Homo sapiens: one gene and its partners. The protein of the gene in region 1 interacts with the protein of each later gene in a pairwise test. Each region holds a gene or a part of one and is shown in the gene's direction. Other genes may lie near its edges.

Region 1 (3,934 bases):
CTTCAGACCCCTGTGGAAGAAACCTTACCTACTGAGTAGAAACATAAATTTCATTCCTTTGTTTAAAGTATTAATGTCCTTAAATATCCAGATGCTGCCCTTTAATGAGTAAGAAACAAATTAATACTACTAAGAATCTCTAGGCAGAGTCACGTTGAAGCCCTAAGTACTTTAGCATAGCCTTCTAAGTGACAGGAAGTAGCACTTCACTATTTCTGCCAATTTTAGTTACGTGGTCTTCCTACAGAAAGTGTTCTGCTGCTGCGCTTTTCTAGTTGACTGTGCTTATAGGTATCTGTCACTAATTAATAGACAGCACAGACACAGAATGTACCAAAGCAGACACATGTCTTCCTAGGGCAACATCAATAACAGCTACCATTTTGAGGGCACGTACTATGTGCCTGGTATTGTACAAATGGTACTTCTGAATCTCACAAGAACCCTACAAAGTATTTCCCCATTTTATAGATGAGCAAACTTGGATACAAATAGATTAAATGATGTTCTCACAGTCACACAGTTAACGAGTATTGGGATATGAACCCAAGTCTGATTGATCATAAAACCCCTGTCTTTTACACCGTACTTCCTCTCAGTACTTGCAGCAGCAGGAACATGGAGAAAGGGAAGAGTTCATCAGATAATTCTAGAGGTTTATCCCCTTCTCTTCTTTTTCAATACTTTAAAAAAGAATACATTTTGTCTGCTCCTGTATGATTTATTCAATCCTGTAAGCCATGCAACATTCCAGAGCTGCCTTCTTTAGCACTAGTGAATGTGTCACCTGAATTCCTGAAAGCCAAAGATCTAAATCATGATATCTATCCTCTGCCATATGTTGTATTTCCTTAAAAAGGCTTTGTTTTGGAATACTTAGTGTTACTTGTCCATACGCTTTCTCATGTACAATTTTCAAACTGATACTTCTCAAACAACCAGCAACCTTCTGTGTGGCTTTTGTTCCATGCCATGGTTTGTATATCAGTTGCAGCTGCGATGACTTGGCACAGCCCATTTGTCATGACTCATTTTGCAGCTATTGTGTAATCATGTGTTTTTCTGATGTGTGAGGTTTGAGCAATTACACACCAGAGGCTAATCTATCAATATTCAAATAACTAGAATTTTGAAATGGGAAAGATTTACATTAATAACTTCTGGATACCCTCTTTCATGAATGCAGATATTTTTGTTCAACACAATTTCGTTTTGGGATTTGGGTGTTCCCAAGGTCCAGGATGCAATGTGAGCTGAGATCTTAGAGAAGGGGAGGAAACTCTAAGCATAATTTATTCAATTCTTCCATTTTTCTTCAGTCTGCAAGGTGTCTGCAATTTGAAGCAATATGTGGGAATTAGTGACTTAACAAAAGACTACACAAACATGAGGATGGCCTTTATTTTTAAAAGGAGCTTTAAACAAAAATGCCTTTCTTTAAGCTTAATTTTTATAATATCTTGCATATATCTTTATTATCACATTGTTATTGTTACATGCACTGGTGTTTTCTCTCTGGATTAAGATTGCCATCTTTATATAAAATGGAATACATGATTATTCCATCACAACTAGTGATAATAAAAACAGCTAATGTTTGTTGGCACATCTGTGCCAGCACTATTCTAAATGCTTAATTTTAATCATCACAACAACCCTATGAGGTAGATATTGTTATCCCTGTTTTTCAGATGAGGAAGCCGAGGCAGAGAGAACTTAAGTTGCTGGCCCAAGGACAAACAGCTAGTAGACAGCAGTCAAGGCAGCGTGGCTCCATGGTGATGTGCTTGGTCAGAGATCTGAATATATAGGACTTAGATTTGTAGACTATTGAGCTGTAGACTCATTTAGACAAATGGTACCAAGATATTTTAGTAGATAAAATTCTAGGTTAGTAGAACATAGACCACATGTTATAAGCTGATATCAGTTGATGGAAGAAAAATGGTTTTACAAGTTATTTTCAGGATCTCTATCAAACCTTTACTTCTCCCTCTAATTACAGATCCCACTTCCAGCCGGGCCCCTCATGTATCCACTGGCCGACCGCAGAGTGTCCCTACCTCCTCTCCAGAGCATCATTCCTTTCTATCTGCTGCCAGAGCCACGGTGCCATTTACTCCAAGGACTCACTTTCTAAAATTCCACACCTGGAGTGACCTCTAGTCGCTCAGCATCCACTTTGTGTCTCCAAATTGTGTAGGACTCTGTAATCTTTTGATTAGTTTCTGAGAAAACACAATGAAGCACTTCACTTTTTTTTATTCAAAGCCATTTAATAAAACACAGTTGGTCAGCCCAGTGCAAAGCTTGTTATCTGCCACCAGTACATACCATTGGTTCTCTTCATTCCTTGGGCCAGCTTCTCAGGTGGCTTTAGACCTCAACAAGCCGTATCTTCACCAGTGTTCTATCTTGTTCCCCTAAATTAATAAAATGTTTTTCTCCAGGATTTTGGTGAGGGTTGGCTGTGGCTGTCGTTTTGCACCTCCCAGATTTCAAAGAATTACTGGTTTTACCATGACTCAAATCTTAAGATCTGTTTCTACTATTCAGTTCCTCAAACTGAAGCTTATTGAAAAAAAAATGTATAATGTTATTTGTTTTATTATAGCAATTATGCCTAATTAAAGCAGTATTTAATGCAATTTCCAGTTATTTCTTTGGAGAATTTTATGTCATTGTTCCATTACCTTGAATGTTGGAAAGATATGATACGTGCTGCTTGTTCATCACAAAAATCAGTAAGCACAATAAAGTGGATGCCAAACCATCAGACACATAAATGTTCCCGCTGTGTCCCTGGATATGGAATAAGCAGGTATAAAAAATATTTTAATTATAGTTTTGTTATAAATATAACTTATGAGAAAAAAATTTGATAGGAATAATACTGTATATTACTAATTTTTAACTATCCCTAAGGCAAACCTTATGACCCACAGAATTTTCTCATATACAGTATTCAGTGCACAGAAATCTTATGATTGGCTCAAGTACAGTAAGTTACTTCTCAGTAAAACTCTCAAGTCTGAGTCCATATTTGTAGCTCTGCTTTTGGCTGTACGTTCCTAGGATCGGGGCTGCTTATGCCTTTCGTTTATCCTTGGGGTTTGAGAGCGCTGTATTTGGGAGAGAGTTTAAAAATACATTAGGAGAGAGAAACCATTAAAAGTTTCACTGTCAGATATATTGTAGGTGCTAATACTGGATTTCGTCTCAGATTTAATTTCTTTTATGGGTCTGTTAGTCATTCAACAAATCCCATAAGTATGTGTTAATATTTTAATTGTGTAAAACTCATTTGTTACTTTACAGCCTGTAATAGTGTGTCTGCATTTTCAACCTGTTGCAATAACTTTGCTGAAATATTAACACATTAATAAAACTTTTCTTAAACAAGTTGTCTCTGTGTCATATTTGGTGGGATTTGGTAGTAAATGATGGTAAAGTGGTAAATGATAGGACACTAAATTTGTCAGATAATACTAGAATTGTAGTAGTGTACCGTACAATGTAGCTTAGTGTTTTAAAATAAACATCTTACATTTCTATGTCACACCTCTCAATTTCTTACCTGCTTTATCTTACAACAGCAGGTATATTATAAGTAAAAATTAAGGAGTAGTCGTTGACAAAGCCTGCTCTCTTCCCCGGACAGCATGAGCTTCACCACTCCCTCCACCTTCTCCACCAACTACCAGTCCCTGGGCTCTGTCCAGCCGCCCAGCTATGGCACCTGGCCGGTCAGCAGCGCAGCCAGCATCTATGCAGGCACTGGGGGGCTTGGGATCCCAGATCTCCATGTCCTGTTCTACCAGTTTCTGGGGCGGCTTGGGGTCTGGGGGCCTGGCCACAGAGATGGCTGGGGGTCTGGCAGAAATGGGGGGCATCCAGAATGAGAAGGAGACCATGCAAAGCCTGAACGACCACC
Region 2 (7,307 bases), on another chromosome or scaffold:
AGGAAAAGGTCTCCTTGCACTGGTGCAGGGAAAGGAGGGGCCCCTCCCTCTGTACTCTGAAACAAAGGAAAACCCAGAGCTCCAACCATGTGGTGTAACATTCAAGGCCACCCACCTCTTCCACTCCCCAGCTAAGGTCTCAATGGGCTGGAGCCACATGGCTCTTTCCAGTGACTGACCAGGAAAGGACAGTGCCTTGCACAAACACATGCTGCAGCTCTTTAACAGGCAGGAACCCTTCCTATGGGAATTGCTGGTTTAAAAAACGCTATCTGAGTAAGGGCTCTTATTCATGAGTCAAGTCAGTCGACTAGATGAGAAGACAGGTCACTTGGTTTCTCCTAGTCCACACTTTGCTTTACCCTTCACATTTTTCAGGAGAGGGAAATGGGGCTTTAAAAGCATGTCTTCCGGAGCAGAGGGCCACAGCACAGAAGGGTTAAACAATTATGTCTTCCCATTTTCCAGAATCAGCACCAACCGGCTACCCTAACATCCTCCCAACTCTATTCAGATTTAGGTGAGGGCGGAGACCGGGCGTGGGTGGCCTTATTCTCTGATCTCTGATTGTATGCAGGCCGACCAGAGACCAGGCAGGTACAAGGTACACCCAAGGTGGCAATGGACTTTTGGTGCCAATGCCATTGCAAATCTCATGTTTTAATATAGTGCATCCAAAAAACCCCGCCTCTCCCAAGGCTCTCCAAATGGTACACCTTCCCAAGGTTGCCTTTCTGTCTGGACTCCTCTTCAATCTCTGAAACAAATGTCCAAACACCTGTCAGATTTCAGTTGTCTTTCAAGGAAACCTGACCCAGAGAACCGGAGGCAAACTGCCTTTCTCTAAGAGCCTCCTGCCCCTCCCCCCACCCTGCCCGGCTTGGGGGGAAAGGGCTGCCAAAATCATGGTCAGCCCCACAAAGATACTCCTACAGCCCACTGCAAAAATTCCTTTCCAGTGTCAATGGCCCCCTGGCATTGCCCATCCTTTGGAGGTTCAGACCCATCTATGAAACCACCTCTGGGGTCAGCCTGCCCCCATCTGCTCCACCCAAAGAAATGAACAACCTGCAAATCACGGTGGAAATACACGCCTCACCAGTCCACAGAGCATTTGCAGTGTGCTATTTTTCAAAACCCTTACCTTTGACCTGAGTATCGTACTCTGCTATGATCTCCTTATCCTTTTTGAATTTGGCTGGAGACGTCATGTTTTCCTTCTTTCTTCCAAATTCGAATTGTGAATTGATAGATCCACGGAAAAAATCCAACCACCTAAATCAATACCTCCAAGACCGCTTCTCTCGAGGGCAGAAGGGGCCCCCCACGGTGGTCTCCAGCGCTCCGTGGAGCGCGGGCTGCGGGCTGGGCAGACGGCTACGGCGGGCACATGCAGACGGTGGGCGCTGAGGCCGGGTGCGGCGGCGGCTGGTGCCTGTGCTAGAGCCGGAGCCGCAGCCTCAGCATTAGCCGGGAGAACTGCAGCGCCCGGAGGCTGGCCTGGGGTCTGACATCAACGACACAGGCGGGGAGTGGAAGTCCTTCCGCACAACATGGTGTGGGGCTGCGGGGGTGTGGACGCGCCCAGCTGTGTCCCCGGGAGGGAGTGGGTGCTTTTCGGGGTGCCGGGGGAGGGCTGGGCGTGCTTCGCGGTTTTTTGTCGTAGAGGCTCAAAGATGCTGCAAATCAAATCCCAAACGGGAGCCGCAACAGCGCAGACTGGATCGGAAGTCGTTTGCTCCGGTTCACTTGCCTGTAAATGCAGGAAAAGGGGGAGGGGGCGATCAGCCAGAGCGCAGATCCTAATCGCGGCGGGGGTGGGGTAGGGGACGTCGTTCCGAGCCCGCCCTGGGCCCATTCCTGTCCGCTTAACGTCTCCCCGCCCGCAGAGCCTGGCGCTACGAGGTGGGGAGGAAGGAAGCTCCCTCCGGATTTTAAGGCTGAAAGAAAACACTTTGGAGCAGCCGCCTGCGCGGGCTCCGGGCGGGAACTGCAGGAACGCGGGGCACCGGGCGGGGAATGCGGCACCTCGGCGGCCTGCTGAGCCCCGCCAGCGCTGGGCAGCGGCCAGCCCGAGGGAGCCCTCCCGACCTAGCCCCCGACGTGGCCCCAGACCCCCGGCCGGGGCACCTCCCTGTACATCAAAGGGGATCAAAGCCGGGGAGGGACAAGCCACCAGGGCACAACTTTTCTTCCTCTCCCGCCCCTCCTCCCAGTTGTTTTGTTTTTGGTTACTAGCTTCTCTTGGCAGCAAAATGTTGATGGGGGGGCGGGGCAAATCTGCAGGAAAAAGCCTGCTCGGCACGGGACACATCCAGGAAAACAATGTGGTCAGCTGAAGCAGGAAACGGGTTAGAGGATAGGGTCGGAGCCGGGAAAACCGGGGGGCGGCGAGCGGAAGGCAGCCGTCGCCTCCCTCAAGCTAGGGACGATAGTGACTATAAATGCCACCCCCAATATTTTTTTGACACCCAAGCTCAGAGATCCCAGATATCCCACCCAATCCCAGGCTGGGGATGGGAGGAGGTCGGTGAGGTCGCAGTCCTGACTCCTCGCACCAGGCGGTGCCCGAGAAGATCCGGCCCCGGACGAGGCCCAGGGGGCTGGAGGGACGCAAGCGGGAGCGCGGAGCCCGGCGACTAGCTCCCTCGCGTGCCGCAGCGGCGACCCTTTCTACTTGGTCTTTCCTTTTCCTCCGAGCGCCGGGAGGAGGAAGCTCCCGCTAGCGTCTCCCACTTCCCGCGGCTGGAGGAAGGGGCCACGCTGAGGGAACAAGACAGGGAGCAGAGGCGGCGGGGTTCAGGCGAGCGGGAAGCGGGAAGCGAGAGGCGGGTGTGAGATGGGGTCCTGAGGCTGGAAGGGAGCCCGGGGACAACTGGAGTTGCACACGCTCGGAAGGCGGGAGGCGGCAAGGAGAAGGCTGCCTTAGAGGTGAGGGGAATTGGGGCATGATCATGGGCCGCGATGTTGCGTGAAGCGCAAGGATGTCAGGAACTGTGGGGGCCGAGATGTGGTCTAGGGATGGGAGTGGGCGAAGAGAAGTCCATCGGGGCGGGCCGGGGGGTGGGACTCGGGGAGAGCCCCGGAAGCTGCGCGGAACACCCATCCTCCTGGGTCCTAGGCTGGGACCCGGGCTGTCCGCCAGGGCTGGGAGACACTGGAGGAGGCCGGCCGATGATTACGCGCGATGCCAACGACGACTGCCCTACGGTGGACCGCGGCTGCCCGTGTGCGGAGGAAAGGGAGAGGCGGCTGGGTGCCGGCTGCGCTGCGGTCCGTGAGCCAGGACAGAGTCCCAGGCTGTACAGTGATGGGCGGAGAGACTCGCAGTCCTGAGAAGTATTATGGGCTGTACTGGGAGATTTGGAGAGGGTGGAGGAGGGGCGGTCTGAGGGATTCCGGGCGGCACCGCTAAGGCGATGCCGCGAGCAGCATCCGCGCCCTCTCCTTCCCGCCCCAGCCCGGGTTTGTTCAGTCAGGGCTCCAGCCCGGCGGCCGGGAGGAAGAAAAGGAAGAGGGAAGGAGCCTTTACCTGGCTCTGACGCGACGGGTCCCAGGCCCCCGGCTCCGCTTCCCACTCAGAGCTCTCCTCCCCTCTCTTCCCCGCCACCCGTTTCTACGCAGATCTGTGCCCCAGTCCCTGGAGGAGCCTCCGCCAACTCCGCAGGACCCCGCCGGGAAGTAGAGCCCACCCCTTTACCAATCACCGCCCGTTTTCTATCGACCGATGGGGCCCATAGCCAATAGGAAGAGCTGATCCCGAGAGGCCCGGAATGAGGGGGAGGAGCTGGCAAAACTTGGAGGTGTGACTAGCACTGCCGAGGCGTGGTCACAGATTAAGCTCCACCCCGGGTTGTTGAACCCCTAAGTAGAACTGATGGGCGGGATTAAGGTGGAACCGACGACCAAACACAAACTCTTGAGCTGAGGCACGGCCAATTGGGCCGGGGTAGAGAGGAGGGGTGTTGCGGGGAATTTTAACCAATAAAGAGTAGAGACCGGTGGAGACTGTAGACCCTCTTCCAATAAGAAGCGGGAAGGGCGTGCCTTGCCACTTTCACTAGGGCTAAAGCAGGGTTTGCCGAAACCTCCCGAAGCCGGCCAATGAGATCGGAGGCGGAGCCAAGCTCAGCCGACCAGAAAGCCGAATTGATCTCAGCACCGTTACTGGGGCGGTGCCTACGGTCTTCAAGCCACTAAGCTCTCGTGAGGGGAGGCCCCGGAGCCTTCCAATGAGGGACTGGGGCTAACTCTAGTTCTTCCAATCGGTGCGCGGCGCTGGCAATTCAAACTGATACCGGGTTGGAGAGGCAGGAAAAGCGGAAGAGGGAGCGAAAACCAACGTGTTCGGTGACAGACCCCAGCGCCGACTGAGCCTCTAAAGCGACTTCAGCTCTGCCCCACCAACACCACCGCGCGCCCGGGAACAGCCGCTCCGGGAAGAAACCTGAGGGGACTGCGGGGGGCACGAGGGACAGCTGAGGGAAGGGAGGACGCGAGAGAAACAGCGCGAGCACGCTGAGGGCCGGGGGTTGCCAGGAGAGGGGCCCGCGGACCCGCAGAGCGGAGGAAGGTCCGGGAGAAAAGGGGCGGGACGGAGGAGAATCCGGGATCGCCTGGCAGAAAAAGAGAAGGGAGTTTCTGAATCCTGGGAAGAGGAGGCGTGGGTAGGGACGCTTAGCCCGAGATCCGACAGCAGGGAACCGGAGCGCTCCGGGGGAGGGGCTTAATGCTGGGGAAGGGATGTCTTAAAAGAGGAGAAGCTTTAAATTAGACGATCGGAGAAGGCTGAGGGAATTGCTATGAAGGGGCGGGAGCTGAAGTGTAGAGGACTCCTTTAGACAGCAGAAAGGGAAAGCCGTTGAGAAGTTCCCTTCAAACTCCACCTGCCTCCTCTCCAATTCAAACTCCACTCCCTTCTCCAAAAGTTAAAAGGAAAGCCAAGTTTACCACGCTCCCCTGTTCCTACTCAATAAATACTTCTTCTACTCCGCCACCGGGAAAACAGAAAAAAAAACTAATTTCCTTCCCAATATTAGGACTTAGAAAAGCTCTAGGTCCCGCAATTTGAATTTTAGCCTAGGGGAATCAAAATAGTAGGAGCATTACTCTTGTTTCCTTTTTCAAAATCCCACACCTCATCCTTCCTGCGACGCCATGTCCACCAACATTTGTAGTTTCAAGGACAGGTGCGTGTCCATCCTGTGTTGCAAATTCTGTAAACAAGTGCTCAGCTCTAGGGGAATGAAGGCTGTTTTGCTGGCTGATACTGAAATAGACCTTTTCTCTACAGACATCCCTCCTACCAAGTAAGTCATGCTAGTGGCGGGCAACGGTAGCTTTTAACTAAATGGGAACACTTATGGCTTGGATCTGTGGGAGTCAACAAGGAGGTTATCATTTCGGTGTTTCAGCCACTCCCACCAGTTTGATGATCCCCTTGTAATATATCTAAGTGGGCAGACTGTCTGGACAAAGTCTATGGTTTAGCCAAGGTGGTCAGTCCTGATGTAATGCTTCTAGTTCAATTGCAGTCATGCGACCACACATCTCTTAAGTTTGATCCCTGGTTCAGTGCCCTGCCCAACCATCCTATTTCACTGAATCAAGTCCGTGGCGTAGACTTTAGGTAAATTCAGGCAAAATTTTCTGTACTGTTGGAGAGGAGAGGTCATTTAAGTTTTTCATTTTTATCCATGAAATTTTGCACCAAAAAAAAAAAATCCGTTTTCTATCATTATTTGCAATTGGCATCCTAAATCAGATCCGTTGTTCATCAAATTCAGTTTTCTTTCCTCAAAACTCTCTCTCTCTGAAAGAGATGTAAATAGATTTTTATGGGATGAAAAATAGAGACTTAGCCTTAATCCTTATCTCCAATAAAGACTATTTTGGACATTACACATTTGTTCCCATAATTGAACCCTTTTAAAATCTGTTTGTTTTCAGCCACTAACTGCTTTTGGGTGTAGAGTCCTTAAGAATTTGCTTCCTATTTGGTAAAATAGCCATTTTATTTGACTCAAATAAACCTCTTTCTAGCTCTAAATGGTACTTTCCCTTTCCATAATCAACATATATATGCCCTACATGAATCTTCAAAATTTAGTTATTTATTGAAATTTTATTATTAAAAGGAAAGTAATTATCCAAAATATGAGTGGACAGTTATTCTCTAAGTCTTTGGATATAGAGCCAGAGGAAGCAGGTTAATAACCACAATTCATTTTAAATGAATTTCATGATAATGATAGAAACTTTACAAGTTTTTTGATTTACCCAGGTAAAGCTGTGTACTCTTCCTTTCTTGAAATCTTTTCTGAATTGGTCTAAGTGTAATCACGTCTAACAGCAAAGCCAAAGGCTCTCATTTATTGCAGAGATAAATGTGTTATTTTAAAATCTTTTTAATTTTTTTAAATTCTAAGTTAATATTTTACATTTGTGTGTGTGTACATCGTATATGTATTTCAAAAAAGGGAAAACACTAGAAAATAAATCATAGAACCTACTGCTACAAAGTTCTGTGATTCATTGTCCACTGCTTTTTCTTTTTAGTAGCTCATACACAAATTTAAAATATTAACCCATTCATCTTTGCAATAGCTATGGTAAGTAATAGGGCAGTCATAAGGAAGGCTAGGTGAATTGTTACAGGTTAGACCCAAGTCTAGAATAGAATCATGTTTTTCCTATTTTCTACCCTTCTTTGTAGGGGTTAAAATAATAATGAATTAGCGTGCTAAGATGTATGTGAATCAATGAACACATAAAAATTTTTTTAATGGAAAATTTGTCAGATGTTTATGTTGAGCTCACAAATATGAACTGACTCTTTAAAAATATACTATACTTCTATGTTAGCTTTCAGCTCTTTGGATTGACAAAATTTGTGCTAAATCAAGCGTAGAATTACTATCTGATCCAGCAGTTCTGGGTACATATCCAAAAGAATTCAAAACTGGATCTTGGAAGAGATATTTGCACACCCATGTTCATTAACAGCATTATTCACAATAGCCAAGAGGTGGAAGCAATCCAAATGTCCATTGATTCTACAGATGAACAGATAAACAAAATGTGGTATAGGGCGCCTATAGTTCCACCTACTCAGGAAACTCTGGTAGGAGGGTCACTTGAACCCAGGAGATTCATTACACAGCAATGTGATTATATTTAACACATCTGCTCTGCACACATAAAACTTGTTAAGTTGGTAAATTTTGTTAATTTTTTGCCACAATTAAATTTTTTGTAAAGTACATCTGACTGTCTTTTTATACCTTTCTCTCTCCAGCGCAGTGGAC
Region 3 (7,035 bases), about 60 Mb from region 1:
CTCATAGTGTTAGTACAAGTTATGCGAGTTAAAACCATGGGCCACAGAAGGTAGTTCATGTGCTCATAGCATTTGAAGCAAGCATTAAAGAATGCATGTGGCTTTCCAGCTTAATGTAAAGCACATACACGTGTGAATTGATCAATTGTCATGTTAATTCCAGATACTCAAGAGAGAGCCCTAAAGGTTTATCTGACAGAGGTCTCTAGGATGAGGCATGTTTGAAATTAAGCTGGAAGTGGAGACACTTCCCAAGTATCTGAATGCAGAACCTTATTTGGCTTATTGGATATTTAAGACCAATACAGGGGGTATTAATAGTATTGTTTAGTGTGACTTATGTAAGTAGTTGTCTCATTCAACATGTTTCTTTAAATGTGCAGAAAATAGTGCCTGATATTCCTCTCCAAACCAACAGCGTAACTTTGCAGTTGGTCAGCTGCCGTCACAGCCCTATATTCAGAATGTCCAAAGTCATCCTTTCTATGACATCAACACCCACTGTCTCCGCGTAAGAGAATGGGAGCTATGACATTTTGCACAAGCTGTTGTTTAAATTCAATCCAAATCCCTCGCATTTGAAATGGAAGCTTAGCAATTTGTCTTCGTGTGTTCTCAAAGGAATTACGAAAGAGATGTTCTCAAACGTTTCTTATTCTTTGGATTAGAAAAGAACACTTGCCTTGGGAGCTTTGAGTCTCTAGCAACTTGATAAAGAAACTTGGAAAAAGTTTAAAATCTCTGACTCCAGGCTGTACTGTTTGCTTCTCAAGCCAGGTGTTTGAAACTTTTCAAAAAGGAATGTGCCATTATTTTTCATAAAATCCACATTTATTTAACTGGTGCTTCATGATGGAAATCTAACTAGAAATAGCATTCCAAAATGTAGTATTTTTTATTGTTTTCAGAAGTGATACCATAAAAGTTAATGTTCACTAAGATTTTGATATAAAAATTATATGATAAATATTGAAATTCACTGGAGCCAAACTAAAAACAGTCTGCCCTTTTTATCTCAGTAGTGAACTTTAGGGGGTTTTTTGCATGTATTTTCATAAGTGCCTTTAAATAAAGACACGGCATCCCTTTAAAATTTAGTTTACATTAATGTAAACCAGAATATTCTCAGGTCACAATGCAGTTTTATATTTGATTTGTAGGAAATAAATCTCTAGCCTGAAAGACATTCCAGCTGTTGCCTGTCTTCATGGGAGGATTGTTCACATTTTCTGAATCTCTCCCAGTGACTGCAGGAAGACCAAAGGCTGCACATTGCTTTTATGCAAGGATGAATTTTTTTAAAAGATGATTTTGGATTTTGTTTGCTTTAATGAATTTAAGCCCTATCTATTAGAGGTAAATGTCAAGAAAACTGTTGTGTTCTTTGGCTATCTGCTCTGCTGACTCCCACAGACTTTGATATGATTCATATAACTCAAACCATGATCAGGTTTGTGACGACCATATTTACAATATCGTTGGAGATCAAAAATAGCATCTCACAAAAGTTTCCCCGTCCTATACCTTCCCACATCTTATCATGGATCATGTGCAGCACAGTCACTCAATTGGCGAACATTTATTAACGGACTACTGCATTCACAGTATTATAGTAGGCATGTGAGGTCCTCCCCTGATGGGATCCTCAAGTGAGATATGCTGCTGGCATAGAGAACCCAAGGGCCTTTATGGACCCTGGCTTTTGTTTGCTTGAGCTTTTATTCAAACATTCAGTCTTTCATGCATTCAGCAAATTTTGAGCACATACTACGTGTCAGGCATTGAGCCAGACCCCAGGGTTGCTATAAGGTACAAGACAGGGCAGGTCCCTTCCATCATGGAATATGCAGTCTAACTATGTAGAGAACTTGCCCAGAGACCTATATGTACTATTAACTGGGGTTCTCTTTCCCACAGCCACACTGGCCACTGCAGTCCAAAAGAGAATTCTAAAAGGAAACAGTACAAAACAGAACATCAAAACAAAACAGACAAACAACCTGGGAACCATTAGGTTTTACACCAGAGTGAAACCCCAGAAGAGACATTCTGCAGCTGGTGAACAGCCGGCCTCATTTGTGAGCAATCTGTTCCCATCAGTGTCAGGGATTCCAGGTCGGTATGCTCAGTCCTATTCCCAGTTGGCCAGAGGCTATTTGTCCTCTAGTTCAGAAGACAAATGAGACTGGTAGGGACCGACCTAGAGAGTATTTTCTTTTATGCAAATACCCTGTTTCATACAAATAATGAAAACCATTGTATTTTATGAAAGGAGTCTTTAAATTAGTGATATTTCCAAAAATATCTCTCCCGTCTTCCCTGTACTAACCCAGTCAGGACAGGGTCACTGCTGTAATAAATAGCCCCCAATCTTAATGGCATAATCCAACACTGTTCATTTTTCACTCACCCAGAAATCAGGATTGGGCGAAGGGCTCTGCTCCACACAGTCCTCCAGGGACTCAGGCTCCTTCTATCTAGTTAAACTGATCAGGGGCCTGTTTCTACCACTTGCTAGTGATACTCTGAGCAAGTTACCTAAATCAGAGTTTTCTTATGTGAATAATATTAGGGCATCCCTCTTGGATTTTTGAGTCAATTTACTTGGCATAGAAACTGACAGGTATTAGGTACTCAATAATGTGAACTGCTGTTATTAATCTTCTACTTCTGGTAGTGCTGCCACCACCATCCCCCGAGGAGGCAGGAAGAATCCGTCAGAATTGGAAGAGTATTATAATAATAGCTAACACTTAGGAAGCTGGATAGTCTTCAAAGTTCTTTTCAAAGTAACTATTTTTTAACAACATTCTAGTTTTATAAATGAGGAAATTGAGGCACAGAGAGCTTAAACAAATTGCTGAGTGTCACACAAGTATACAATAGAGCTCTAGGCATTTGGCTTCAGAGTCCTGGCTCTTTATTCACTATACTATATTGCCTTTCAACTTGGAATATACAGCAGAGCCTCAAATACCGTCATTTCATTCAACATCGTTTTGTTGTAATGTTAATGAGAAAAAATAATTGGTTTTGTTGTCAATGATGTTGTGAGGACTTACTATTATATATTGTATTTTCCCCAGAATTAATGTTATATGTTGTGGCAGATTGTATTCAAAAATAGCCTTACAATTGAATCCATTACCACATTAAAAAAATTTTTTTTTAGAGATGGGTTCTCACTCTGTTGCCCAGGCTGAAGTGCAGTGGTGTAATCATAGCTCACTGTAACCTCAAACCTGGGCTCAAGCAATCATCCCACCTCAGCTGCTTGAGTAGCCAGGACTATAGGCGTATGCCACCATGCCCAGCTAAATTTTTGTTTTTATTTTTATAGACTTGGGGTCTCACTATGTTGCCCAGGCTGGTCTTGAACTCCTGTCCTCAAGAGATCCTCCCACCTTGGCTTCCCAAAGGGCTGAGATTACAGGCATGAGCCACTGCATTACCATATGTTCTTCTAGAATCTTGCTCCTCTCCATCAGGAGGTGAAGTCTATTGCCCCTCCCTTTGAACCTAAATGGGCTTATGATTGGTCCAACTGATAGAGTACAGTGGAAATAATGCTAGGTGACTTCCAAGGATAGATCATAAAAAGAATACAATTTTTTTCTCTCTTGCTATTCTTTTTCTTCTTGACATTTTCCCTTAGAATCCAGTCACCATATTGTAGGAAACCCAGACCACATAGAGAGGCCAAGAGTAGGTATTTCAGCCAACATCTCTTGCTAAAGTCTCAGCCGACATCCAGCATCAACTGGCAGGCATGTGAGTGAGCAAGCTGTCAGATGACTCCAGGCCCGGTCATCAGGTCTTCCTTCCCCCTCCTGATGCCAGGGAATCACAGATGCACTATCCCTGCTGAGCTCTGCCCCAGGTTGCAGTTTCATGGACAAAATAAAAGTTGTTACTGTTTTAAGCCCGTAAGATTTGGGGTGTGGGGGGGTAATTTCTTAGGCAATCAGAGTAACTGGGACATTTGGGTAATTAGAAATGAGTGAAATGCCTGTGTAGAGGGCTAAACTTCAGGTACATATGGATTATTAAATAGACTTTTGTGATTTGGCCTAACCTAACCTAATTTCTGGAGGAAAATATATTTCTGTTACCAACCAAATTACAAATGAGCTTTTGGAAATTTGGAACAATGTCCTACAGGTTAATGCTGTTGCTGGTTCTAGGAAAAGATTTGGGCTACACTGAGGCCAGACTGCATGCCTTAGCAAGATCTCGCTCATTGGCCCCCACTGACTGGGACCCTCCCTGCAGGAGAGTGCAGTGTGGATGGCAGTACTCGTATCATCTGTCCTAGACCATCATAGGACATGCTCAGTCCTCCTTGTCCACTTTGTCTCCCTCTCCCATACCTACTCTGTCTAAATTGCTGCCTACTTTTCTATTGTTAGAAACTGCTGTATCTTTGACACTATTTTGGCCCATTTCCTATGCTTCTAGGGCAATGTTTTCTGCTCTACTGGTTTGTAGTAAAGCTAGGGTATTCTCCTTAGCCAGGTAAAATTTAGCTAATTCAACAAAATCTTATGCCTCTTAACAAAATTGCCAAAATGGCAGCTGTCCCATTGGTCTGTGGCTCCATGTGTTGGTCAAATCTAGCATTTGAAATCCTCAGAAATGTGGTCCTTGTGTCCTTACTCAAAGAGGCATCCCTTTCCCTTCTGCTGTAGAGAAATCAATGCCCCAACTCTCTTCTCACTTACTTAAACTTCACCCCATCCTAATAGTCTACTCCTCTTCCCTTAAGAAGACTCTCATTCATTTATTCATTCAGCATTTGTTAACTCTGTACAGTGAGCCCTAGAGTTAAGTGCCTATGAAAATATTCCTTTCATGTCCAAGGACTGCTAAGGTTTCTCCAGCTGTTCCTCATTTGCTTACCATAGACACAGGGCAGATGTGGTGCAATCACCCAGACTTTTCAATAACCGGGATATATCCCATCTCATCCAAGATATTTCAGCTAAGTAGGATACTGCATGAGTAATATAGGACCAGCCAGTCTTTGAAAAGGTAACAGTCTAGTTAGGAAGGCTGGATGGCATCTGCATTTGAGGGCCAGAGCTACGTCTTCCACACTGGCTACAACTTCCCACAGTGCCCAGCATCATGCAGGACATACAGTGCCTCCTCTTTACATCTCTGTTAGGTGATTAGTGAACAGATTAACCCCAGAGGATATATGGCATTGAGATGACTTTGGAGAGGAAGTGAGCTTTGAGTTGGGCCTAAAGGATAGAGAGCGTCTGGCATGAGGAGCAAAAGTGAAAGGATAATCCTTCATTGAGAAGCATGATGAGAACATTCTAGTGACAGAAATAGGACACCTCCCCACCTGGAGTCAAGAACATGGTTGGGAAAAGGAAAAAATATATAATCTATATGGTGGGTCCATGGAGGATCTAGGATTTATCCACTTAAGCTGGATTTGATCTGATAGACACTAGGAAGCTGGGGAAAGCTGGGAGCAGGGAAGTGATGTACATGTTAAGTGGGGTGAGAATATTTTAGTGACTCTGTTTCTTTACACAGCTCATTTAAATCCCTGAATATGTGCTAAGTATTTTTGTCCATTTTTCTCATAGAAAAGTTTTAACTTCTTAAATTTTAAGAAATGTGAATTATCTTTTGCCCTCCGTAGGTGTGAGTAGCCATTTTAACTTTAGCTGGGTTATATCCGTAGGCAAAGCTGTGTAACTTCATAGTTTTAAACATATAACCTATTACTCATCAAAGTCATACTCATATAAGTTCCAAACCAAATGAACAAGTCAAGCCTTTAAAACATTTTCTATAAAACTATACTATAATGAGTATACAATGAAAATTTATATAAATATATATTATATGTATATTTATATATATATAAAACATACAATATATATATACTGAAACCCCTGAGACACTGCACATTATTCTGAAAAATCTTTGAATCATGTCACCAATGAAAAATTAGGTTGTGTTCAGTGAAATTTTAGTTGTAAGTTATGAGTGCATTGCATTACATTACACCTGAAATCTTTGAATACTGATCATCAATATAAGTGTCTGGCAACTATCAGAATGTTCTTAACCAGAGCATGCCATCTTTAAGAAAAATATTATAAATTATACATGCAAAAAAGTGTATATAACATATATGTACAATACAAAGAATAATAGAAAACAAATCCCTGGGTAGCCAACAAAAACACCATCTGTTAATCATTCTAGTGAAGAGTAATGCGTTGATATTGATGATAATTTCACTCTAGTAGCACACAGATTAGTACTGTCCCTAAGGTCCAACACCAGAAGAAATTGAATCGGTGATATGTTTTTTAACTATTTGATCACATAAAGATTTTAAACCAGTTGAGTCATTTATTTCAGTCTCTGATGGTGAATGAAAGGTATGTTTTCCACTTACAAAACATCACTTGCTATTGCTGCTGGCAATTGTGAAGGTTTGTAAATTGGTTTTTGTGTCGAGAGGCCTTTGCCCCAAGGCCATTGCCCATGTTGTGCTCCTTGTCACCTCCCAGCTATTCAGGAGGGAATGGTGAGGGAACCCTTGGTGAGCCCTGAGCTCTTGGTACAAGATCTGTATACTTAAGTTATTTAAAATGAATATTAATAGAAGACTAACATAAGACTATCTGAGTATATTACTAGGACTAGAAAGTCTCCCAGGTTGAATGGGACAACGTGGTACCAACCTTGGTACAAGCCCAACTGCCAGGGGTAGTTAAAGCAAACCATTCTCTCTCTCAGGGTATATATATATATTTTGGTATATTCAGAATATATTTCACAAAATAGAAGCTATTTAACCATTAAAGATGCAATCTTTGGTCCAAATTCCACTTTGCAAAAGAAATTGTCATTAGATCTGTTTGTGCCCACCTTGAAAAATGTTGATCAACTTCCAATTTTTAAAGGTCGATCTGTTACTATTTAGAAATAGAACTCTCTTTCTCCTCAGACTGTCAAAACAGCCTACGGATTATAGCCAAGGACTATACTGTTAATGAACCA
Region 4 (7,035 bases), on another chromosome or scaffold:
AGATGGGGTTTCTCCGTGTTAGCCAGGATGGTCTCAATCTCCTGACCTCAGGTGATCCACCCTCCTCGGCCTCCCAAAGTGCTGGGATTACAGGTATGAGTCACCGCGCCCGGCCCTCTTTAACTTTTTTTAAAGGTACTTAATCTGCAAAGTCAAGACACACTTCCACAGTGGGGTGGGGGTCTTGGCCCCTCAGATCTCCAGGGGCGGCTGTCACTGGAGCGCCTGTCAGCATACCCTGTTGTGCTCACTCCAGGGAGCTGTGTGTTGTGCAGTGTTGTTAACACACAGGTTGGGTTTGCCATTTAAAATGTCTTTGAAAAATGCACATAGAGTTCCAGCATTGAAACAAATTTTGGTTATCCAAAAAGACACGGAATATAAATTTTGTGTCAGTGAAGCCAGTACCTCCTGTTGGATTTTATGGGATCTGAGCAAGGGTGACCCCGAAGCTATATTGTGAGTGCTGCTGTGTTTTATTTCTGAGCGAGGGTGACCCCTGAAGCAGCGTTGTGAGCGCTGCTGTATTTTATTTTATTTTATTTTTGAGATGAAGTCTCGCTCTGTACCCCAGGCTGGAGGGCAGTGGTGCGATCTCGGCTCACTGCAAGCTCCGCCTCCCAGGTTCACGCCATTCTCTTGCCTCAGCCTCCTGAGTAGCTGGGACTACAGGCACCGGCCACCACGCCCGACTAATTTTTTTTTGCATTTTTAGTAGAGACGGGGTTTCACCGTGTTAGCCAGGATGGTCTCAATCTCCTGACCTCGTGATCCGCCCACCTTGGCCTCCCAAAGTGCTGGGATTACAGGCATGAGCCACCACGCCCGGCCTGTAATTTAGTTTTTTTGAGACAGAGTCTGGCTGTGTCGCCCGGGCTGGAGTGCAGTAGTGCTGTCTCCGCTCACTGCAACCTCCAACTGCCAGGTTCAAATGATTCTCATGCCTCAGCCTCGTGAGTAGCTGGGACTACAAGCATGCACCACCACGCCTGGCTAGTTTTTTGTATTTTTAGTAGAGATGGGGTTTTCACCTTGTTGGCCAGGCTGGTTGAACTCCTGACCTCAGGTGATCAGCCAGCTCGGGCTCCCAGAGTGCTGGGATTACAAGTGTGAGCCACCGCGCCCGGCCTGCTGTATTTTATTTCTGAGAGTGCTGGGATTACAAGTGTGAGCCACCGCGCCCGGCCTGCTGTATTTTATTTCTGAGCAAGGGCGGCCCCTGAAGCGGTGTCGTGAGTCCTGCTTTGCTTTATTACTGAGCCACAAGCAAGGGGATTACCTGTTGGAAGCAAAGCCGTGCAACTGAAGTCAGGAGAGAGCCAGACTCCTTGGAATAGAGGAGACGTCTATGAGGCCGGTGTGACTGCCTTGTGCACCACGCAGTCTCTCAACAGGCAGTGATGTCACCTGTGGATAAACAGTGGTGTGTCTCAGTCGATGGAGTCTTAGATTTGATGAAATGTATCTTTACCTCAAAAAAGTTATGCCCCCGATAAGTGGTAAACATTTTTGTTGAAGCCAGCTTGACCCCCAGGTACGCCCCCCACGCCCCGCCGCCCAGCGTCCGCTCACAGCCTCTGTCTTTGGCAGGTGATGGTGGAGGCCTACCGGCGCGACGCCACCTCCAAAGACCAGCTCATCAGTGAGCTGAAAGCCACCAGGAAGAGGCTGGACTCGGAGCTGAAGGAGCTGCGGCAGGAGCTGATGCAAGTGCACGGGGAGAAGCGGACTGCCGAGGCGGAGCTCTCGCGCCTGCACAGAGAGGTGGCCCAGGTCCGTCAGCACATGGCGGACCTTGAAGGGCATCTCCAGTCGGCGCAGAAGGAGCGAGACGAGATGGAAACACACTTGCAGGTCTGTCCGTGTCGGGTTGACTCATTTGATGGGGAGGATTCGGCCAAAGTGCTTGTCGGGAGGGTGGGGCCTGTGTCTGGGGCGGGGCCTGTGTCTGGGGCGGGGTCTGTCTGGGTCGGGGCCTGTGTCTGGGGTGGGGCCAAGGTGGGAGAGGCTTTTGGAAGAACAGCTGGGAACAAGGCCCACCTGGAGCATAGGTCCCAGAGGGGCAGTCCGGTGAGGCCTGATAAGTCCAGGTGGTGATGGTGCATGAAGGGAGGGAGTGAGGAGGCCCCGTGAGGCACCCAGCTTCTCCCCATTGCCATGGGCTCCCGGGATCTAGCATGTGAGAGGACAGCGGCTGTCATGCAGAAAGCAAGGGTGAGTGTTTTGTGGAGACCCCACGTCAGGGCAGGGCGTCGGGGCCCGGGGACCCTGGGAGTCCCTCGTGGCTGAGTGCGGAGCTGGGACTGACCAGAGCTAGTCATGTTCCTGTGGAAGCTGAGCCTGGGCTGGCTTCTGCACACAGTGGGTGTCCGAGATGCTGGTGACAGTTTCTCGGCTGCAGGTAGCAGAGCAGGTGAGGGGTAGAGGCGGGGGACGGAGGCCGCAGTCCAGGATCCTGTCCAGACATCCAGGCTGAGGAACCGGGAGGTGAGACGAGAAATCAGGAGAGCAACAGTAAATTTGGGGAGAGTCGTCTGATGGCACGTTAGACCAAGTGCTACGTTTTGCTTATGAAGTTTCTGAAGTTGCCGGAGAGGACCGAGCCAAGGTCCCAGCAGGCAGATTGGTCAGCATGTCTGGCTCATTAGGAGCCAGGCTGAGGCCTGTGAGTAGGCGGTGTGGCCGGCACCATCATTGTTGGAAAGTGAGGGCTGATGGATTAGCGCTGGTGCCGGGGTGGGGAGGTGGGCCAAGGGGAGGGCCGGCTCTTTGGACTGTAGGAGGCTTGGAGGACTCAGCAGTGCGGGCAGAGCACGTTCGGACCCCACAGCTGCAGGCCTGGGCTGGTTGTGGGGACTCGCCTCGCACACAGGAGCTGGGGAAAGGCTGCGAGGGCAGGAGCAGGTCGGGGACGCGGCCCTCAGTGTTCACAGTTGATCCTGAGGAGGGCATCCGGGGGGGGTCCAGGGAAGGGTCCTGGGGTCTCAGGAAGGGTCCTGGGGTCTCGGGAAGGGGTCCCGGGGTCTCCGGGGAGGGGTCCCGGGGTCTCCGGGGAGGGGTCCCGGGGTCTCCGGGGAGGGGTCCCGTGGTCTCCGGGGAGGGGTCCCGTGGTCTCCGGGGAGGGGTCCCGGGGTCTCCGGGGAGGGGTCCCGGGGTCTCCGGGGAGGGGTCCCGGGGTCTCCGGGGAGGGGTCCCGGGGTCTCCGGGGAGGGGTCCCGGGGTCTCCGGGGAGGGGTCCCGTGGTCTCCGGGGAGGGGTCCCGGGGTCTCCGGGGAAGGGTCCCAGGGGTTCTGGGGAGGGGTCCCGGGGTCTCAGGAAGGGTCCTGGGGGCTCTGGGGGAGGGGTCTGGGGACTGTGGGGAGGGGATCCAGGGGCTTGTGGGGAGGGTTCCCGGGGGCTCTTGGGGAGGGGTCCTGGGGTTTCCTAGGAGGGGTCTGGATCCTTGAGGAGGGGTCCTAGGCCTTGGGGAGGGTTCCTGGGGCCCTGGGGAGGGGTCCTGGGTCCTGAGGGTTTGGAGGAGAGGTCCTGGGTCCACAGGCTTTCCTATGAACCAGTCATGTCCTGTTGTGCCTCTGATGCTCTGGACAGTGTTTGGAAACGCTTGTTGGTCTCAGTAATGAGTGGTTTGTGGCCGGGTGCAGTGGCTCACACCTGTAATCCCAGCACTTTGGGAGGCCGAGGCAGGTGGATCACGAGGTCAGGAGTTCAAGACTAGCCTGACCAATATGGTGAAACCCTGTCTCTACTAAAAATACAAAAATTAGCTGGGCATGGTGGCGGGCACCTGTAGTCCCAGCCACTCGGGAGGCTGAGGCAGGAGAATCACTTGAACCTGGGAGGCGGAGGTTGCAGTGAGCTGAGATCACGCCCCTGCACTCCAGCCTGGGTGACAGAGTGAGACTCCATCTCAATAAAAAAAAAAAAGAGTGGTTTGTAAGAAGGCAGACGTCTCTCTCAGGATTTTTCTCAAGGCCCAAGTCCTCCAGGGCGAGCCTGAGCAGTGCCTTTGGTGGGGGTGATGGGCTGGAGCCAGGAAGGGGAGACAGGCTGGGGGTGGCAGTGCCGCTCCTCACGCCCTCCTTCCCTTCCACAGTCGTTGCAGTTCGATAAGGAGCAGATGGTCGCGGTCACAGAGGCCAATGAGGCGCTGAAGAAACAAATCGAAGAGTTGCAGCAAGAGGCCCGGAAGTAAGTCTGCATGTGCCCGGGGGAGGTGCGGGGGCCAGGTGGGAGGTGCGGGGGCCGGGGGGGAGGCGAACCAGAATGCCAGACGGTCACATCGGGATAATTCAGCTTCCTCCTGTGTCTCCCTCATGACACCCCAGGGCCATCACGGAACAGAAGCAGAAGATGAGGCGGCTGGGCTCAGACTTGACCAGCGCCCAGAAGGAGATGAAGACCAAACATAAGGCCTACGAGAACGCCGTGGGCATCCTCAGCCGCCGCCTGCAGGAGGCCCTCGCGGCCAAGGAGGCTGCGGACGCGGAGCTGGGCCAGCTCCGAGCCCAGGGTGGCAGCAGTGACAGCAGCCTGGCTCTACATGTAGGTAACACCGTGCCATCCCCGGCCAGGGTCACCAGCCCCTCAGTGCAGGGAAGGGCTCTCCATCAGCAGTTGTCCCCTAAAGCCTAGCGGGGCCGAGCTCGCGTGGGAGGTGGCAACTCTCTAAACTCCCGCTCATCTTCCAGGTTACCAGGAACCCACAGTGACTGAGCATTGCCTCGCGTCTCCCTCATGAACCCCACATGGCCTGTGGCCTGTGGCGTTCACCTGATTTTCCTCAAGAAATCTCCTTGGCTCAGAGAAGTTCAGCTGCTCCCTTGGGGCAGAGGGAGGGCCTGCCCTGGTCCGCTCGCGTTCCAGCTGCCTCTGCGCCTCCTCGCATCTCAGGAGGAAAAGCAGCCTCCGCACTCACTGAGAAGCAGGAGTGAGGGCATGGGGTCAGCGATTGACAGGGTTCAGGGAGCGTTTAGAGGTAGCCATGCTGCGGTGGCCCAGAACAAGCGGGTGCCCTTTCTGGAGGGCTCTGAGCAGAGCCTTCCGTGGAGGCCGTGGCCCTCCGTGCTCTGTCACCTTTCGTGGTAGGCATAACATTCTACCTGAGTGAGTTCATCCGCATTTTATTTATTATTCTCCAATTCACGTCCTTGCACTGACAACTTAGTATTTCTTCTTATATGTGGTTTGTTTCTATCTCCTGTCCACTTAAGAATTTATGGGTAGGAAGAGACTGTATCATAACGTGGGGTTTTCTTGTCAAATAAACTCGGCCGGGCACGGTGGCTCACACCTATAATCCCAGCGCTTTGGGAGGCTGAGGCAGGAGGATCGCTTGAGCACAGGAGTTTGAGACCAGCCTGGGCAACATAATTAGACCCTGTATTTACAAATAATACAAAAATAAAACCCAGGCATGGTAGCACGTGCCTGTGGACACAGATGCTTGAGACACTGAGGTGGGAGGATCGCCTCAGCCTGGGAGGTGAGGCTGAAACTGCAGTGAGTCATGATTTTGCTGCTGCACTCCAGCCCGGGCGATAGAGACTCTGTGTCTGAAATTCAATAAATAAATCAAGTGCTTCCTCTCACCTGGTTGCTTTGTAAAATGTTGGGGAGATTGATTCAGTTGCCATTTTCTTTGGGCTCACTAAGGGCTGGGGTGGGGAGGTCGCAAAGGCCGGGCAGAGCTGGCCCCTCGCCACGCTGTTGCAGCTGAGGAATAGCACAGCTGCGAGCCGATGTCTTGTGTCCGTCCGGGCTTCACCCCTCGCAAGTGGTGACTTTTGGCAAATTTCTCACCTTTTTGATCCTCAGCAAAATGAGGCCAAATTGAGGTGAATGAGAACCTTCTCATGTAAGGGTTAAGTTAGGTGGTACTGGAACATGCTTGGCAAGGGCCTGGTACCATCGAGGCAGCAAGTGGGCGGGGTGTGAGAGCACACCTGTGCCTGCATGTATCCGTGCATGTGTGAGGTGTGAGCATGTGTGTGTGCAGCGTGTGGAGTGTTTGTGTGCATGGTGTGTGGGATGTGAGCATATGTGTGCATGCAGTGTGGGGTGTATGTGTGCATGCAGTGTGAGGTGTGAGCACATGTGCATGTGTGGTGTGGGGTGTGAACACGTGGGGTGTGAGCATGTGCGTGTGGGGTGTGAGCACGTGTGTGTGTGGTGTGTGGGATGTGAACATGTGCACGTGGTGTGTGTTACATGAGTGTGTGTATGTGATGTGTGGTGCGTGAGCATGTGTGTGGTATTTATTACAACTGGTGCTGCTTGCTTGCCACAGATGGTGATTTATAGCCATTATCTGCAGGTCAGATTTTCTTCTGTATTTTTGAAGCATTGAACTGAAGAGATGATTTTGTTTGTCCCAACTATCCCCGTGTGTCATCGTGTGCATGCTGTGGTCGGTTAATTCAACTTCTTTAACAAAAAGGAAGGTTGTGAGACTGTGTCAGACAGCTGGTGTCTGGTGTGTGCAGCCACACAGCCTCATGCCTGCCGGCACCACAGGAAGTGAGGGGGGTCAGGGCCTGTCCCATGACCAAGCGCCCGTTCCATCTTGGCCCTTAGGAAAGGATCCAGGCCCTGGAGGCGGAGCTGCAGGCTGTCAGTCATAGCAAGACGCTGCTGGAAAAGGAACTGCAGGAGGTCATAGCGCTGACCAGCCAGGAGCTGGAGGAGTCCCGGGAGAAGGTGCTGGAGCTGGAGGACGAGGTGAGGCCTGGCCATCTGCTGTGGCGGCAGCGTGGGGCAGGTCACGTGAGCCCTGGACATGCCGCCACGCGTGAGACCCGAAGAACAAAACTTCACCGTGTGCCCAGCGTTGCTACTTTTGGTGTTGCCACCTTCTGACCGTCGGCCTCTGGCTCTGTGGTGGGGCAGGCCCTGATTCCAGCCCTCTGGGGAGGATCACTGTACAGCCTCTTTGGTGGAATGGTTACAGAATTCATAGTGGAACCCTTCTCAGTTCAAATGCTTTGGTTGCAAATAAGAAACCCAACTTCGCCAGGCGAGTGGCTCATGCCTGTAATC

The links.
Region 2: the proteins of GOLGA7 (region 1) and FAM72D interact in binary tests that used the Homo sapiens proteins (3 or more experiments, as listed by UniProt).
Region 3: the proteins of GOLGA7 (region 1) and NCALD interact in binary tests that used the Homo sapiens proteins (3 or more experiments, as listed by UniProt).
Region 4: the proteins of GOLGA7 (region 1) and GOLGA3 interact in a two-hybrid assay, tested with the Homo sapiens proteins (one study listed by BioGRID).

What each region holds. Positions count from the first base shown.
Region 1 is NC_000008.11:41,507,579-41,511,512, forward strand, and holds the end of GOLGA7 (golgin subfamily A member 7), read left to right. Parts: intron 1-2,005; 3' UTR 2,006-3,402; downstream 3,403-3,934. UniProt on the Homo sapiens protein: May be involved in protein transport from Golgi to cell surface. The ZDHHC9-GOLGA7 complex is a palmitoyltransferase specific for HRAS and NRAS.
Region 2 is NC_000001.11:145,091,691-145,098,997, forward strand, and holds the start of FAM72D (protein FAM72D), read left to right. Parts: upstream 1-4,283; 5' UTR 4,284-5,157; coding exon 5,158-5,309; intron 5,310-7,297; coding exon 7,298-7,307. Other genes in the region: SRGAP2B (SLIT-ROBO Rho GTPase-activating protein 2B), read right to left, coding at 1,145-1,211.
Region 3 is NC_000008.11:101,780,935-101,787,969, reverse strand, and holds part of NCALD (neurocalcin-delta), read left to right. Parts: intron 1-1,917; exon of another isoform or gene 1,918-2,115; intron 2,116-7,035. UniProt on the Homo sapiens protein: May be involved in the calcium-dependent regulation of rhodopsin phosphorylation. Binds three calcium ions.
Region 4 is NC_000012.12:132,783,846-132,790,880, reverse strand, and holds part of GOLGA3 (golgin subfamily A member 3), read left to right. Parts: intron 1-1,590; coding exon 1,591-1,854; intron 1,855-4,093; coding exon 4,094-4,188; intron 4,189-4,325; coding exon 4,326-4,542; intron 4,543-6,573; coding exon 6,574-6,717; coding exon of another isoform or gene 6,718-6,855; exon of another isoform or gene 6,856-7,013; intron 7,014-7,035. UniProt on the Homo sapiens protein: Golgi auto-antigen; probably involved in maintaining Golgi structure.